3 linked regions of the Homo sapiens genome follow. The protein of the gene in region 1 purifies or fractionates together with the protein of each later gene. This does not show direct contact. Each region holds a gene or a part of one and is shown in the gene's direction. Other genes may lie near its edges. The genes, in order: SLC45A2, TMEM63A and SQOR.

Evidence for each region.
Region 2: the proteins of SLC45A2 (region 1) and TMEM63A purify together in Homo sapiens (affinity purification with mass spectrometry, with the first as the bait; one large-scale study listed by BioGRID). This does not show direct contact.
Region 3: the proteins of SLC45A2 (region 1) and SQOR purify together in Homo sapiens (affinity purification with mass spectrometry; 2 studies listed by BioGRID and IntAct, with this or other methods). This does not show direct contact.

What each region holds. Positions count from the first base shown.
Region 1 is NC_000005.10:33,944,083-33,946,809, reverse strand, and holds the end of SLC45A2 (membrane-associated transporter protein), read left to right. Parts: exon of another isoform or gene 1-944; intron 945-1,937; coding exon 1,938-2,162; 3' UTR 2,163-2,187; downstream 2,188-2,727. UniProt on the Homo sapiens protein: Proton-associated glucose and sucrose transporter. May be able to transport also fructose. Expressed at a late melanosome maturation stage where functions as proton/glucose exporter which increase lumenal pH by decreasing glycolysis.
Region 2 is NC_000001.11:225,848,095-225,851,422, reverse strand, and holds part of TMEM63A (mechanosensitive cation channel TMEM63A), read left to right. Parts: intron 1-1,343; coding exon 1,344-1,511; intron 1,512-2,410; coding exon 2,411-2,526; intron 2,527-2,868; coding exon 2,869-2,931; intron 2,932-3,328. UniProt on the Homo sapiens protein: Mechanosensitive cation channel with low conductance and high activation threshold. In contrast to TMEM63B, does not show phospholipid scramblase activity. Acts as a regulator of lysosomal morphology by mediating lysosomal mechanosensitivity.
Region 3 is NC_000015.10:45,637,970-45,641,625, forward strand, and holds part of SQOR (sulfide:quinone oxidoreductase, mitochondrial), read left to right. Parts: intron 1-3,656. UniProt on the Homo sapiens protein: Catalyzes the oxidation of hydrogen sulfide with the help of a quinone, such as ubiquinone-10, giving rise to thiosulfate and ultimately to sulfane (molecular sulfur) atoms.

The sequences.
Region 1 (2,727 bases):
AGGTCTCCCTGGTGCCACCTGCAGCATTTCTAGATACCGACAATAAGGGTCTCCCTATCCCCAACTTTCAGAGGTACATAGTGGAATTTCTTGGCATTATTTGCTGAGGGTAGGAAAGTCCTAGGCAATGGAGTCCAGATTTTAGTAAGTCAGACCCCATGTGTGAGAAGGAAAGCTGGAATCATGGGTGGTAATCCCCACTTTGCTGCCCTGAGCGGGACCTGTGCCATTTAAACCTTGGAACGCAACTAGTGAACAAGCGCCTATGCAGTGCTTATAACAGAGTTGGTGTTTCCACTCTAAAATTACCACCTCTTCTTATCAAAATTTGCAACTTTCTTCCTGTGAAAATAGGCTTATAGTTCCTTAACTGGAGCAATGATATAAAAGCTACAGAGATAACTCCAAGTTTAATCCAGCTCAGCATGAAACTGCAAAAACACTGAACATATAACCATCAGACTATAATTCTGGCCATGTTTTTCATCATTTGATCTGGCAGCAGGGCAGAGGTGCACCAGGAGTAAAAACCTTTCAAAAAAGAGGTGTGGCTTTCCTCATCCCCTGGCAAACATTGTCACCAAGGTGGGATGTTGCTGCTAATGGGAGAGTCATCATAAAAAACTGTCCCTACAAGGAGAGTGTTACATGGTGTTGGGGGAAGAAAACCTACGCTTCAGGCTCAGAGAAACCTGGATTCAAATCCTGCCTCTCTCACTTGGAAGCTGTGTTACACTGGGGATGTTATTTACTTGTTTATTAGTTAGCACTTAGAATGAGTTCATTTTTAGGTGAGATAATATATTCACAATGATACACAAAAGTGCACACTGTGTGCTCCCTTTACCATTTACTATCTCCCTCCAGCCCCAACGTGTTACCACTCTTACTAGTTTTTTGTTAATCTTTCCGGCATTTTTAAATAAAAACCAAGCAAATGTAAATCTGTTTTCTTATTTTCCTTTCTTATTCAAAGGATAATATGCGTTTTTCAGCATAATGCTTTTTTTTTGCCTAATAGTGTAGGAAATCATCATTTAAGCTCGCAGGCCCTCAGTTTCCTCATGAGGCAAATGGAAAGAATGTTATTTACCTTATAGAAAAGCAAACAAATTAGTGGATGTGCTTAGCATAGTGCCCCCTAGCACCCGACAAAGACTCAAAATGTGATAGCTAGTATTATAATTGTTACCATGGGGGTAATGATAATAACATGTGCATCCAGGGAGGTGGTGAGGTTGAAATACAGTAACAGGTAAAAAAAAAACCCAGGCCCAGCACATAAGCGATACCCAACAAATGACAAAGTTATCAGCCAGTTCGGAAGAAATATCAAGTATTAACCAAACATTATTATATTAATCAAGTAGCAACCATATTTTGAAAGATTGAAATGCTTTTTAAAGTTGCTTCTCTTAAGGACATCAGCAATTCAACATCCTTCTTAAAATCTTTGAATTTTTAACACTAAGAAAGGAAAAGAATGGGATATTTATTAAGTATCCACTACATTGTATTGATTATGGCCCGCCACTTGTTTTTGTACAGTCTGCGAGCTAAGAATTCCTTTTAATTGTTTAAATGATTGAAAAAAACTTTCAAAAGAAGGTTAATATCTTGTGACAGGTGAAAATTACATGAAATCAAATGCTAATACCCATCAATATTCAGTTCAGTTCCACATCACCAATTCATGAAAATTACATGAAATCAAATGCTAATAATGTCCATCAATATATATTGGAAAGCCAACTCAGCTCCACATTGCCCCTGCTTTTGCACTACAGCAGCAGAGTTGAGTAGTTATGACCAGGGCTGTATAATCCACGAAGCCAAAGGTATTTACTATCTGGCTGGTCACAGAAAAATTTTGCTGACCTGTGCCCTAAATGACAGTTCCTTGTAGGTCAAATGGTGGTTCTGTGCTTCCTTTGCAGAGGCAGCAGGCCCCAGGAGGGGACCCAGACAACAGCGTGAGAGGGAAGGGCATGGACTGCGCCACCCTCACATGCATGGTGCAGCTGGCTCAGATCCTGGTCGGAGGTGGCCTGGGCTTTCTGGTCAACACAGCCGGGACCGTTGTCGTCGTGGTGATCACAGCGTCTGCGGTGGCACTGATAGGCTGTTGCTTTGTCGCTCTCTTTGTTAGATATGTGGATTAGGTCAATAAAGAGACAATGACCCTAACCTCAGAGACAGTGAAGCACATGGCAGGAAGTTAACATTTTCTGCAGCTCTGAATCTTAGGGTCTGCCCATTGGACGCCCACTATTGTGATTTCAGCCGTGGAATCTGCCCACCTCTCTCTCTCTCTCTCTCTTTTTTTTTTTTTTTTTGAGATGGAGTCTTGCTCTGTCACCTAGGCTGGAGTGCAGTGGCACGATCCCGGCTCACTGCAAGCTTCGCCTCCTGGGTTCACACCATTCTCCTGCCTCAGCCTCTCGAGTAGCTGGGACTACAGGCGCCCACCACCATGCATGGCTAATTTTCTGTATTTTTAGTAGAGATGGGGTTTCGCCATGTTAGCCAGGATGGTCTCGACCTTCTGATCTCATGATCCGCCCCCCTTGGCCTCCCAAAGTCCTGGGATTACAGGCGCAAGTCACCGCGCCCAGTCCCACCTCTCACTTTAAACCAATCCTCTGCACAACAGTCCCCATATTTCAGGCAACGTTTGCCTGGACTATGCCTCTATGCCTCGGTGGCAAGGGGTAAGTGTGGGTGGCA
Region 2 (3,328 bases), on another chromosome or scaffold:
ACTCCAGCCTGACCAATGAGCGAGACTCCATCTCAAAAAAAATAAAAAATAAAAAAACAAAAGAACCTGGCATAATAGAAAAGGCAGCACCCACTTTCTGTTGGTCCCCTGTGTGCTCCTGTGCCACCCCTGGGGTAAGACCCTTGGGCCTCATTCTCTGTTGACTGTGATGAGGGCAGGGATCAGCCGGGTGGGAGAAGGCCAGGGGTGTGGGAGCACTGACATACAGGGGCTCAGCATGGGAAGGGCTGGGGAGGAATTGAGGCCAGGCATCCAACTGTGAAACAGCCTCTTTCCAAGATGATTCTGGAATGTTAGTGTTCTGTGGGGACAGGATCACAGACACTGTGACTCCCTTGGTGCAGGGTCTGTCCCACAGACCCTGACCCAGCGACGGATGAAAGACATACACTGCCGGGTGCGGTGGCTCTCGCCTGTAATCCCAGCACTTTGGGAGGCAAAGGTGGGCGGATCACGAGGTCAGGAGATCGAGACCATCCTGGTTAACATGGTGAAACCCTATCTCTACTAAAAATATAAAAAATTAGCCGGGCATGGTGTCAGGCGCCCGTAGTCCCAGCTACTTGAGAGGCTGAGGCAGAAGAATGGCATGAACCCAGGAGGCGGAGCTTGCAGTGAGCCGAGATCGCACCACTGCACTCCAGCCTGGGCAACAGAGACTCTGTCTCAAAAAAACAGACAGACAGACATACACTGACAGATATTTTGCCTGTCAGTGCGGCTAAGGGGCTCTGCAGCCTGAGTCTGCAGTGTAGTCCTCAATGCCAGGCGAAGTTCGCATTTATTTAGTACAGACTAAATGACAAAGGTCTCGAGTAAACACCACTAGAGGGTAATTAACATTGCCGACCCCCTGAATAGCGAGCAATCATGCACCAGTGGATGATCAAAGGTTGGTCTTAGGACCACATGAGTAAACAAGCTATTTAGGTAAACTCCCCCACATTCCTATGTATCTGCACCCTAAGCTTTTAAGAGAATTCAGCTGCCTTCAGCCAAACCCTTTACTGAAGCTATGCAAACCTCTCGGCTTTCCAAGAAGGTTTGTGTCTATTTCCTATAACTTTATCTTAAATTTTCTCCCACCACCCTGACCGATCCCCTACACCTTGGGGTCACAGATAAGTGAGGAAGTGGGTAGGAGAGAGAAAGTGAAAAAAAACTAGTAGCCAGAGGTGCAGGATGCCTCATTTTGTGTTCAGGCAGTAGAGCAGCAGCCCCAGCCCTGGCTCCTTGCCAAAATAGCCGCCCCGGAGAGGAAGAGGACAGAGGTGTCTGTGTGGCCCTGCGAGGTCTCCAGCTCACAGCCCCATCCCCTGCAGGCCTCATCTACATCCTGCTCAAGCACATGGTGGACCGGCACAACCTCTACTTCGTCTACCTCCCAGCCAAGCTGGAGAAGGGGATCCACTTTGCCGCTGTGAACCAGGCCTTGGCAGCCCCCATCCTGTGCCTCTTCTGGCTCTACTTCTTTTCCTTCCTGCGCCTGGGTGAGCAGCCCTTCTGACCTGGGGCCAGCCCTTGGCCTCCCAGCCCTGCATCCCCACCAGCCAGTCAGATCCCTCATTGCTTTCACAGCATCAGCATGGCATCCAGTCAGAATGTGGTGCCCAGAGTGAGGGCTGGTTAGGTGTCCCATCAGAACGTGGTACCCAGAATGAGGGTTGGTTACATGTCTAGTCAGAATGTGGTGCCCAGAGTGAGGACTGGTTAGGTGTCCAATCAAAACATGATACCCAGGGTGAGGGGCTGGTTGGGTGTGGTGTTGACAGCCTGGCTCCTAAGCTAGCCCGAGTGCAGGTGTAACCCTTGTGAAGGCCTGGTCAATTGTCCCATACATCCCTGGAGAGAAGATAGTGCCTTTATCAGCTGTGCAGGGACTGAACCAGAGGAAATGGGGAAGCTGATCCAGATTTGCCCTTTGAGGCTGGTGGTTGGGCCCAGCTCCTTGTACCTCCTGGCATGGAAGAGGTGGGGACGTGGAGGAGAGAAAACTGACACTCCTGGGGGAAAGACACGTCTGCCCCGGTCAGACTGGGGGTGTGGGAGGGTCCATCCTCTCTAGCCCAGGGCACTGGAGACTGGAGGGAACGGACCAGCAAGGAGGCTGAAGAATTGCCATTGACTTGGCACCCCAGTGCCTGAAATCTGACCAGGGATGATGCCAGTCATTCAGTGGGTCCCTCTGTGTGTTCCTGGCTGTGAAGACACCATCCTTGCTGCTGGAGTTGAGGGGTGGGGGTGGGGGGTTAGGCCTTACCTTTATTTTCTGCCTGAGGGAGAAGTCACGGGCAGTTTCCACACCAGGTGCGGCCCCTTCCTCAGCAGGGTGAGGGTAGGTGGTGGCCCCTCCCTGCCCACCCCAAGGCTAGCCACCCTCTATCACCAGGTATGAAGGCCCCCGCCACTCTGTTCACCTTCCTGGTGCTGCTGCTCACCATCCTGGTCTGCCTGGCTCACACCTGCTTTGGATGCTTCAAGCACCTCAGCCCTCTGAACTACAAAGTAAAGGCCCCCGACCCCACTGCCCGGTCAAGCCCTGGGAGGAACAGATGGTGGGACGGGCTCGCTGTCAACCCCGCCCACCCTTGTCTGTATCAACACAGCAGCAGCCTTCTCCAGATTCTGCTTCTCCATGGGAAAGGCGTGGGTGGTTGGGTGCCATGTGTAGCTTCCCTTCCTCCCCTCATCCCTGCACTCCCCCACCCCATCCTCTCTCGGGCTGCTGGGGAGCTTGGTGCCAGCTGGTACTATTATTCCGGGTGTTAATAGTCTGTGTGTTTGGAGGGTGTTTGTTCACAGAGATCAGTTTTGTTTATCATCGCAAGTTTTTGCTGTTATCTGCAGACAGAAGAGCCTGCAAGTGACAAAGGAAGTGAGGCAGAGGCCCACATGCCCCCACCGTTCACAGTAAGCTGTGCCCCTCAGCCTCTGAGCTTGTCGCCCTTTTTTTTGCTTTGGTTGTAACAGTCCCAACCAGATGGGCCCCGGCAAATCTTTGATCATCTCTTGCTAAGATCACATGGCAGGCAAGTTTGTGAATTAATGGCAGAGAAGGAATCCTGGTCCCCCTGGGTATTTTAACCTGCATATTTGAAACTGTTGAGGAGATAGAGTCTTGTCTCGATTCATGGCCATCCCCCTTGGTTTCAGTTCCCTGCTCTCTTTCCTTCTCTGCATATTTAATGCCTGGTGAGTTTGGGGCTTTAGTGAAGGCACATGGTAAGGCGCTAGGGTTTGACAAAGGTTTGTCATCAGCGATGCACCTGCCTGTGCGAGGTCCTCCACTAGGCTCCAAGAGGGTGTC
Region 3 (3,656 bases), on another chromosome or scaffold:
GACCTGGCTGGAAGCCAACTAGTTGCTTCTTAATCCCAGCCTTAAAAATCTTTGTAATCCCCAGATGTAGGTGGTAATAATAATAAAGAAAAGTAGATCTAGCCAACCATCCCTGTGATTTACATTGAGAAAGTGCTAAATTGGGACAGGAGGTAGAGAACTTTGTGGAAAAAAACAAAACAGAACAAAAAAACCCTCGGAAATTTAGAACACACTGGGACTATCTATGTCTGTAACTTTGGGAAGGGCAAATACTGGTGTTATGGACTCACCAAATTCATATATTGAAACCCTAGCCCCCAGGATCTTAGAATGTGACTGTATTAGGAGATAGTGCCTTAGTTAGAAGTGGTGGTGAGCACCTGTAGCCCCAGCTACTTGGGAGGCTGAGGTGGGAGAACTGCTTGAGCTCAGAAGTTCGAGGCTAGCCTGAGCAACATAGCAAGACCTTGTCTCAATAAAAGAATAATTAGCCAGGCACGGTGGCTCACGCCTGTAATCCCAGCACTTTGGGAGGCCGAGGTAAGCAGATCGCTTGAGGCTGGGAGTTTGAGGCCAGCCTGGCCAACATAGAGGAACCCCGTCTCTACTAAAAATTCAAAATATTAGCTGGGTGGGGTAGTGTGCACCTGTAATTCCAACTACTCAGGGGGCTGAGGCATGAGACTTGCTTGAACCGGAGAGGAGGAAGTTGCATTGAGCCAAGATTATCATGCCACTGCATTCTAGCCTGCGCAACAGAGCAAGACTCTGTCTCAAAAAAAGAAAGAAAGAAAAAAAAAAAAGGAAAATTAAGTTAGGTCATTAAGGTGGAGCCCTAATCCAATATGAATAGTATCCTTATAAGAAGATGACTCGTCAGGAGCACATGTGCACAGAGAAAAGGCCACGCAAAGGCACACTGAGAAGGTGGCCATCTGCAAACCAGGGAGAGAGATCCCAGGAGAAACCAGTCTCATCAGCACTGAGGTCTTGGACTTTCAATCTCCAGAACTTTGAGAAAATAAATTTCTGTTCTCTAGACTTCATCTAGTCTATAGTGTTTTGTTATGGCAGCCCTAGAAAATTAATACAACTGGTTCTACCAAATGGACAATAGGTTTAAAAAAAATGGCTACAACTAGGCACCATCTCTTTTAAGTCATGATCCCGACATGTCCATCACTTGCTCTTAGGATCTCTTACCCAACCTATGCAGAAGAGTCTCCCATGTACTTTCCTTCTACAGACACCCTGTGTGGTCCCTAGGATCTTGCCTGAAGTTGTTAAAGCCATATTCAGCTTCATGATTTTGACTGTTAGGAAAAGAAAAACTTGGCCTCTTCAGCAAGTGACCTAGGTTAGCTGTTGTGCCATGTACATAGTAAGTACTTTGTAAATGTATGGTGGGTGATGGGTGATGATGTTATGATCATCCTTAAATACCATGGGGTGACTCCCTTCTGATCATAATGAATCTCCATGTTTTGGCCCTAGCCCAGCCCTCAGGGAACTTTCATGCCACCTAGCTGGGAACCAGCAGCTCTGGCCCTAGCTACATGAATGGAGAGAAAATGGCTATGTCTGTATCCTGGTACCAATTCCTGACTTCTGGGAGGGAGGGCTGCTTCTGGAAGTGGGGATTGTGGTGATTTCACTCTATGATAACTTTCTTATATCTTTGGCTATTTGTTCTAAGGTAGCCCATGATGTCTCCATAGGAAAATGATGTGTTTTAACAACCACCATGTTTGGAGTATAGATTGTGAGAGCTCTTCAAGACAGTGCTGGGTCTAGTAAATGTGGTTTTGTGTTTCTGTGAGCACATAAATGATGCTTGAGATGGATGAGGGGCCATCTGAGTTTGGAGGAAAATCATGAGCCTTTCAAGGTCTAGGTGATCAAATCTAAGCTTGTTTTGAATCATTGAGTAAGAAAGGTCTTTAATGGCAACTAGACACCTCCACTTATTTTACACTCAGGGAAATGGACTCAAAATGGTAAATGACTATCTCATGGTCTTACAATCTCCATTTCCTCACTTATAAAATGGGAATAATAATTCCCACCTCTCTGGTTTTTGTGAGTAATTACGTAAAGTGCATAGCACAATGCCTGTCACATATCAACACTTCCACAAATGATTTGGGGACTTGCGGGGAGAGATTGAGAGGAATGGTTTCCATTCTAATTATGTTCCAGACCTGCTTATTAAAGCCTTGTTATTCTTTGCCACAAAAATTCACATCTCTGATCAATCTAAGGAGTTATTAGAACAAGCGTCCCCATTTGAAAGCCTGCTTGTGAACTTCCATTTTCCTTTTCTCATTTAGAGGATAGCAAAGTTTTAGAGAAGCAGGGGACCTTTGATGCCACCCAATCTGATCCTTTATTCCATTGATGAAGAAAGCATGGCCCAAAATGGGTCAGGAAGAGCTGTACCTAGCACTCCCTGGACTGTGGTCCTGGGTCTCTTGACTCTTGATATGCCCTCAGACAAAGCTTCACCAGGAACGGGTCATTGTCATCTAGCTGGACACAGAAGAGACGTGAGCTGTCTACACCTCATTCTGTCTCAACTATTAAAGGATTGAGTTTAGAGTCTCTCCAACTATGTCCAAATAGCAAATGTATACCTTGAAATTAAAGAGTGTTTTCTCATTATGGTAAGACCTCACACACTGGATTCCAAGGAATGATATACTTGAATGAAATGGCCAGTCCCGTTTACAGTGAACTCCTTGCATGTGAGACTCTGAGTGGAAATCCCAATGCTCCTGAGGCTGATGAGTAATTTTAATGTGGTCATTTAACAAACTCAGGAAAACAAGTTCATCCCTGTTGTGTGACTGGGAGTACACTGATTCCACCTCAGGCTTCTTTTTCCAGTGAGTCATGTCCTACAGTCTGCAGATGGGCACACACAGGCATATACAGACTAGAAAGGAAACCTGAAAATTACCTGACCAGAGGCCAACTATGAGTGGTGGGGTTGAAGGGGAGCTAAGTCGTGCTTCTTTATGTACTAGAATGTGAGAAGTCAGGCTCCCACTGGCTACAGCAAGCAGAAAAACAAGGTGTTCTTTCATTTTTTTTCCCCCTATATAATTCAGTCAAAACTCTTAACTTTCATTTGAAATAATCCAATTGACTGACATATTTTTTCTTTCCTGGAATCTGAATGCAAGCATTTTCCTTATGTAAATATAATTTGTGTTTTCTGCTTAGCAATTGTATTGGTTTGGTGAAATTGTCAGTTCTCTTGTTACAATGCATTCTCTGATTGTAAAATAAGGATAGGTCAGGATAATTTGTAGGAAATTTCTCAGGAGCAAAGGGAGCCACTGTTTCATTGTAAAGTCCTCATTAGCAACTCTTAATCAGTAACTCTGCAAAGAAAATTCCTACAGTTTTGCCCCTGAAGAGTGAGGGAACTAAAGAACCCCAGTGCAGCTCCCAGTCCTTGAATCATCAGAGAGCTATATAGATTGTTCCTATTTCCCCAGTGACTCAGTCCTGGCCCACTACTGGTGTACTTGCTTCACAGCTTAATATTTAAACAAATGTTTGGATTTATAACAGCTCCAGAGGGAGAGTTTCAACATGGCCCTGCAGGGCTAAGTGAAGATTGCTCCATTTTCTTTATTTGTTAACAGTATAGTAATCCAGTTCCTGAA